2 linked regions of the Homo sapiens genome follow. The protein of the gene in region 1 interacts with the protein of each later gene in a pairwise test. Each region holds a gene or a part of one and is shown in the gene's direction. Other genes may lie near its edges.

Region 1 (4,028 bases):
TGATCTGTCTAATACTGTCAATGGAGTGTTGAAGTCTTCAACTATTAATGTGGGTGAGTCTGTGTCTCTTTTTAGGTCTCTAAGAACTCGCTTTATGAATCTGGGTCCTCCTGTGTTGGGTGCATATATATTTAGGATAGTTAAGTCTTGTTGAATTGAACCCTTTGCCATTATGTATTGCCCTTTTTTTGTGTTTTTTAATCTTTAAATTAGGATTGCAACCCCTGCTTTTTTCTGTTTTCCATTTGCTTGGTAGTTTTCCCTTCATTTCTTTATTTTGAGGCTAAGGGCATCGTTACTTGTGAGATGGGTCTCTTGAAGACAGCATGCCATTGAGTCTTGTTTTTTTATCCAGCTTGCCACTCTGTGACTTTTAAGTGGGGCATTTAGCACATTGACATTCAGGGTTAGTATTGATATGTGTGGATTTGATCCTGTCATTGTATTGTTAGCTGGTTATAATGTTGGCTTGTTTGTGTGGTTGATTTATAGTGACACTGGTCTGTGTATTTTTGTATTAGCTTATAGCAGTATTTCATTTCTGTATTTAGTGCCCCTTTATAAATGCTTATTTAAAAAGACATCACTTGCAGTTGTGATGAAACACCCCAGAAATAAATACAAACAATTGAATTTATTTGCTTTTTAAAAAAATAACTGATTCTCTATATGTAGCCCAAATTACTTCTGCTATTGCTCTACTTCAATGGTGATTTCATACTTCTCATTGTAAAAGCATCATCAATAATTATTCAGTCATTTCTCCTAATAGTGTTTACTGTGTTAATAGTTTCATCTCTCTATGAAGAAATAGTAAATAGTCATACACACACAAATACATACATACCCACATACAGTTATATTTGAGTACTTTTGTTTCTGGGAGAATTGCTGGGGAAAAGGCTGTATATGTTAATTTTAATGGATATGTTTAGACTGCTTTCCAGAAAGGCTCTAATAGAATAATACATTTCCTCCACCAATTTAGAAGTAGCCTTTTCCCTGCCAACAGTACATCTGAATTAGATTTTAAATTTGTACCCATATGATTGGTATAAAATTATATCTTGGTATTACTTAATTTGTATTTCTTTAACCTTTAGAGTGTATGAGCCTCTTTTCTTATTTGTTAGCCACGTGGGCACTCAATTGTGGATTGCCCATTTATGACCTTTTGCCTATATTTTTCTATTGGGTGGTTGTCCATTTATAAAATCTGTTTATAGCAATCTTCTGTTTATACTCTGAATTGGATACATCCTTTCCAAATCTATTATTTGTCTCTTGATTTGTTTACTCTTTTATCTTTTTTGTAACAGCATCTGGGTTTTCATTCTTATTTAGATGTCCCCTTCCTTTAAATAGTACAAGTAGATTTTAAGATTTCTTTTTGCAAAATTTTTATTGTTTTGGCTTTTAAAGTCAACTCTCTTCTCTATCTGGAATTTATTTGTGTATACAGTGTAAGAGTTTTCTTTTAAATGGATACTCAGTTGTGTAAGCATTACTTAATAAATTGTTTTCCCACTAAATTGAAATATAGACAATCCTAGACTTATAATGATTTGACTTACAATTTTTTGACTTTATGATAGTGCAAAAACAATACTGTACTTTGAATTTGGAATCTTTTCCTGGACTAGCAATATGCGGTAGGATACTCCCTCATAATGCTGGGTAACAGCAGCAAACTGCAGCTTCCACTTAGCCATATGATCATGAGGATTAAAACTGATCCTCTACAGTGTACTGTGTCACTATGTTATTTTGCCCAACTATAAGCTAATGTAAATGTTCTGAGTACACTTAAGGTAGACTAGGCTAAGCCATGAAGTTAGTTTTATTAAATGCATTTTCTAATTAAGGATGTTTTCAATATATGATAGGTTTATCAGGATGTAATCCCATAATAAGTCAACAAGCATTGGTATTTACAGATTCTCTATTCTCTTCTAGGAATTTGTCTATTCCTATGCCAGTATATACTGATTTTGTTACATTGGCAGTATAGTACATGCAAATACACACATACACACGTACACATGGGGTGGTGAAAATACTCTTATGAGGCTGAGTTTGACTATAGTAATTAAGAATGGAGTTGCTTCTCAATGTCAAGTCTCCAGTTAAAATGGTGTGTGTGTGTGTGTGTGTGTGTGTGTGTGTGTGTGTGTGTGTTTGAGATAGAATCTCACTCTGTCACCCAGGCTGGAATGCAGTGGTGTGATCTTGGCTAACCCCACCCTCCACCTCCTGGGCTCAAGTGAGTCTCATGCCTCAGCTTCCCAAGTAGTTGGGATTACATGCATGTACCACCACACGCAGCTAATTTTTGCATTTTTAGTAGAAGAAGGGTTTTGCCATTTTGCCCAGGCTGGTCTCGAACTCCTGGCCTCCAGTGATGCACCTGCCTTGGCCTCCCAAAATGCTGGGATTAGAGCCGTGAACCACTGCTCCTAGGCCTAAAATGGGATTTAATAAAGAGCCCAATGGATGGCCATCGATTCATAACTACTCTTGATGTTGCCAGATCATATTTCACCTTTGTAAAATATTGAAAAATAAATGTATACCATTTAGTGAGAGCCAGGTTTTTTTTATAGATGAGAAAGTTGATACTGTTCTAAGTGTTAATTTATTTGCCCAGTATTATTTACTTATTACATGGTAAAGTTAGGGTTACAATATTAAATTGAAGCTCTTTTTATTGTGCCAAAATGAAATATTTTATGAAAAGTACTTTGAAAACAAAGGTGTATGCAAATTGATATGATGGCTATCTCATGATCATCTCCACAATAGTAGCAACTCTGAGTTTTATTTAGAAACAATGCAATGGTTTATGTACAATAAAAGTTATAGCCAATTATTTATAACAGAACAATTATATTTTGATGTTTTCTTTCAGGATATGGTCTATGAATAAAATGTTAGAAATTAATTTTATTCTTTAAAAATCTCAATAATTGGTTCTTTTAAACATTTTTTAGAACAGAAGAAAGTTAAAAAACCAAAACCTGAATTTCCTGTATACACACCTTTAGAAACTACATATATTCAGTCTTATGATCATGGAACTTCCATAGAAGAAATTGAGGAACAAATGGATGATTGGTTGGAAAACAGGAACCGAACACAGAAAAAACAGGTAAATAAGCTTTATAAAACTTGTTTTGAGTAAAACATGTACAGAAAAGCACATAAAATACAGGGTTAGCTCACGATATAGTGCTTTGTTTTATTGCACTTCACAAATACTATTGTTTTGTTTTGTTTGAGACAGAGTCTCGCTCTGTCACCCAGGCTGGAGTGCAGTGGCGCAATCTCAGCTCACTGCAAGCTCTGCTTCCCGGGTTCATGCCATTCGCCTGCCTTAGCTTCCCAAGTAGCTGGGACTACAGGTGCCCACCACCACGCCTGGCTAATTTTTTGTGTTTTTAGTAGAGACAGGGTTTCACCGTGTTAGCCAGGATGGTTTTGATCTTCTGACCTCATGATCTGCCCCCCTCGGCCTCCCAAAGTGCTGGGATTACAGGTGTGAGCCACCGTGCCTGGCCGGTTTTTTTTTTTTTTTTTTTTTTTTTTACAAATTGAGGGTTTGTGGCAGCCCTGAATTGAGCAAGTTTACGGGCACCATTTTTCCAAAAGCATCTCCTTCCTTTGTGTCTCTATATAACATTTTGGTAATTCTTGTGGTATTTCAAACTTTTCATTACTATAACATCTGGTATGGTCATCTGTGATCAGTGACCTCTGACGTTACTGTTATAATTATTTGGGGTACCGTGAAGTGCACACATGTAAGACAGCAAACTTAATTGGTAAATATTATGTATATTCTGGCTGCTCTACTAATCAATCATCCTCTAGTCTCTTTCCGTCTCCTCTGGTCTCCCTACTCCCTAAGGCACAGCAGTATTGAAATTAGGTCAATTAATAACCCTACCATGGCTTCCAAGTGTTCAAGTAGAAGGAAGAGTTGCATGTGTATCACTTTACATAAAAATGATTAAGCTTAGTTCGGAAGG
Region 2 (3,019 bases), on another chromosome or scaffold:
GTGCTCAGTAACACGGAAGAAACAGTGATCTGCCTCTCTCTTCTATTCTCCACTCTTGAGGAGCTGAATGGGCCCATTTGTCCAGGTCCTCCTTTGCATAAATCTCTCCAGGGTCTCCCCACAGCCTAGCCGGGTACCCCACTACAGGATGGCAGTTTGGAAAGTGTGGCAAGTCCCTAGAAGAGGGATCATTGAAGGTGATATGAAGATCCTGCATTAAATTAGAAAGCAAGAGCGCTGGTTATTTTTCCTTCCATATTCCTATTACTCTATGTTACACGGGTCTGTGTTTGGCCCTGTTTAATCACTTTCTGTCTTTGAACCCTCACAGCAACCCTAAAGGGACATGAGTCCTTTTCACGAACCCGTATTCCTAATCTGGACAATGACGAGGAGTTCAAGCCACTAGCCCAGGGTCAGGGAGCTGGGAAGTGGCACTGCTTGGTGTGAATCCTGTCAGCTTCCCTAGGTAGAGAGGTCAGTGATGAAGCTTCTCTATGGCCTAGGTATGTTTATCTCTTCACTGCTTGAAATCTTTCAACAAAACCAAGCATTACAGTCAGTCCTGGAAGCAAAACAGAGACATAGAGGGATATGAATAAGTATACTTTGATGGGAGGGAGGCAGGGTCCTGTGTCTTCCGTGTTGCTGTGCACAGGAGAAACGTGGCCGAAGAACTGAGGTGGGGACGGGGACAGGAACAGGCAATGCCAGAGATCTGAAGGTCGCATCCTCGGCATGTCCCTTGCACACTACTCCCTCGCTGTGCTCTCTGCTCCCACCAATCCAGACAATTGAACAAGAGACTGGGGTTGCACTGGGACTCCAGGAAAGCCTTAGCTGTTGACAGGGGGTGGGCAGGCCCCGGGGTGTGGGGCGCAGGTCAGGATCTCGGGGCACGCGGAACGCCAAAGGGCGGGAGTAGCAGGTAATCTCAGGGAACTGGGCAGGCCCGGCAGGGTGAAACAAGCAGCTCACCCGGGTGCACAGCCCCTCCCGCGGGAGCCGCTGCGAAAGGGCCGTCCCCGCGGTGTGCACCGACCTGCGCTCAGGGTACTTTGCGCCCGACCCGTCTGCTGCGCACAGCCCAGCCCAGGACCGCGGGCGGCTCGGACTCAGTGGGTCGGGTGCAAGGGTGGGGCAGGGTCTCTGCACCCGGCTCCCTCCCCTGACTAGAAAAGGAGCTGCCAACTGTTGCGCTCCACCACGCCCTCCACGTGTTCCACTGCCTCTTCTCTTCTCGCTTGGGAACTCCAGTCTCACCTCGGCTTGCAATGGACCCCAACTGCTCCTGCGAGGCTGGTAAGGAACGCCCGGGTTCTGTGCCTTAGGATGCCAAATTCCCAGACACCATAGAGAGTGTCCCTGGGTTTGAGGAGGTCATATTTTGCGATCTGAGCTGAAGAGGACTTCTTTACTTCCTCCGCTGCTTTCCTCTTGGCCAAGCTCCTGAGAGCATGTCCCTCTTCCCTGTGCCTCTATGTCAGAGTTGAGGGTCCTAAGGCTCAAGGCTGTCCTGCTCCACATCACCCCGTTGGTCACGAGGCTGCTGGCTGAGCCCCAATTCTCTAACCAGGCTCTGAGCAGCCGGATTGGATGGGAGGCATTGGATAGGTGGGGACATTGCCTCTTCAGGGTTCAGCACAGAAAGTCGAAGTCGCAGTCTTCCCGGGCTGTGCCTGGAGCCTGGGACTTACCTTTGGAATACAAACGGAGGGTGCTTGGTTTTCCCAGCATGAATGGAGAGGAGATGGGTCTTCTCTTCTTCTGCTGAGTGGGAAAGGAGCTCTGACGGCTGGCCCTGAACAGAGAAGGGGGAAGTGGACACTCATTGACCCACTGCTGTAACTTCTGCATCTCACTCACAACACACTGGCTTTTTCTATTCCTTGCAGGTGGCTCCTGCGCCTGCGCCGGCTCCTGCAAGTGCAAAAAGTGCAAATGCACCTCCTGCAAGAAGAGTGAGTGCGGGGCCATCTCCAGGAATCTGGGGCTGTGGCTAAGGTTGGGAGGGAACCCAAGGCTGGCCCTGAGTGCCTGCTTCCTTTGTCCCCCTAGGCCGTCACTGCCTTTCCAGTCTTCTGCTCTGTCCAGGGCTCCTGTGGGGCTGGGCAGTCTCTCATAGGAAGACTCACCCCAATATCCACCAGTCGTCTCCTGAAAAAGCTGTGCCATCCTGAACTAAGGATCCTCTGGGGCTGGAGTCTGAGCTTGAGCCAGGCCTGCTGTTGGGAGAGGGAGCTCCCTGGTCAAGTCTGCTGTGACTTCTCTCTCCCTTTTTCCCCAGGCTGCTGCTCCTGTTGCCCCCTGGGCTGTGCCAAGTGTGCCCAGGGCTGCATCTGCAAAGGGGCGTCAGAGAAGTGCAGCTGCTGTGCCTGATGTCGGGACAGCCCTGCTGTCAGATGAAAACAGAATGACACGTAAAATCCAGGATTTTTTTTTTCTACAACTCCGACTCATTTGCTACATTCCTTTTTTTCTGTGAAATATGTGAATAATAATTAAACACTTAGACTTGATTCCCGTTCTGGTTCCTGTTGTGTTTTTTGGAATGAGGGACTGGGGTGGGAGATTGAACTGGGAGTTTAAAGACTGGGCTCTGGATGGAAATGTGAGTGCTGAACAGTCTGAGCGCCTTCAGGTGAGCCCCATTACATCACTGACCTCCATCTTCTGTAAAAGGCACCTGCACTGTCCTGGCTCATATGGGGATGGGGACATACGCGATCAGCTCCACTCATATTAAATGTGGTACAGAGACTTCTCCATTCCTCATGTTTATTCTCAGGTTTCCCTGCCCAAGTTCAGTTCCTCAGCAGATTTTAGGCTTGAAATTGGCCACAGGAGGTGGATTCCAATGCCTAAATTACTTGAATCCTCCATGGGGCTTCTCAAACTCCACGGTGAAGGGACAGTTTTCATTTTCTATCCATCCCAGACCTAAACCTTTGTAAATAAAGTAATATTAATTATGAAGATAATGAAGCACAAAATATAGAACCCATGTTTTACATTTTAC

Evidence for each region.
Region 2: the proteins of DNAJC1 (region 1) and MT1H interact in a two-hybrid assay, tested with the Homo sapiens proteins (one study listed by IntAct).

Annotation. Positions count from the first base shown.
Region 1 is NC_000010.11:21,881,402-21,885,429, reverse strand, and holds part of DNAJC1 (dnaJ homolog subfamily C member 1 precursor), read left to right. Parts: intron 1-2,990; coding exon 2,991-3,148; intron 3,149-4,028. UniProt on the Homo sapiens protein: May modulate protein synthesis.
Region 2 is NC_000016.10:56,668,611-56,671,629, forward strand, and holds MT1H (metallothionein-1H), read left to right. Parts: upstream 1-1,203; 5' UTR 1,204-1,274; coding exon 1,275-1,302; intron 1,303-1,895; coding exon 1,896-1,961; intron 1,962-2,287; coding exon 2,288-2,379; 3' UTR 2,380-2,519; downstream 2,520-3,019. UniProt on the Homo sapiens protein: Metallothioneins have a high content of cysteine residues that bind various heavy metals; these proteins are transcriptionally regulated by both heavy metals and glucocorticoids.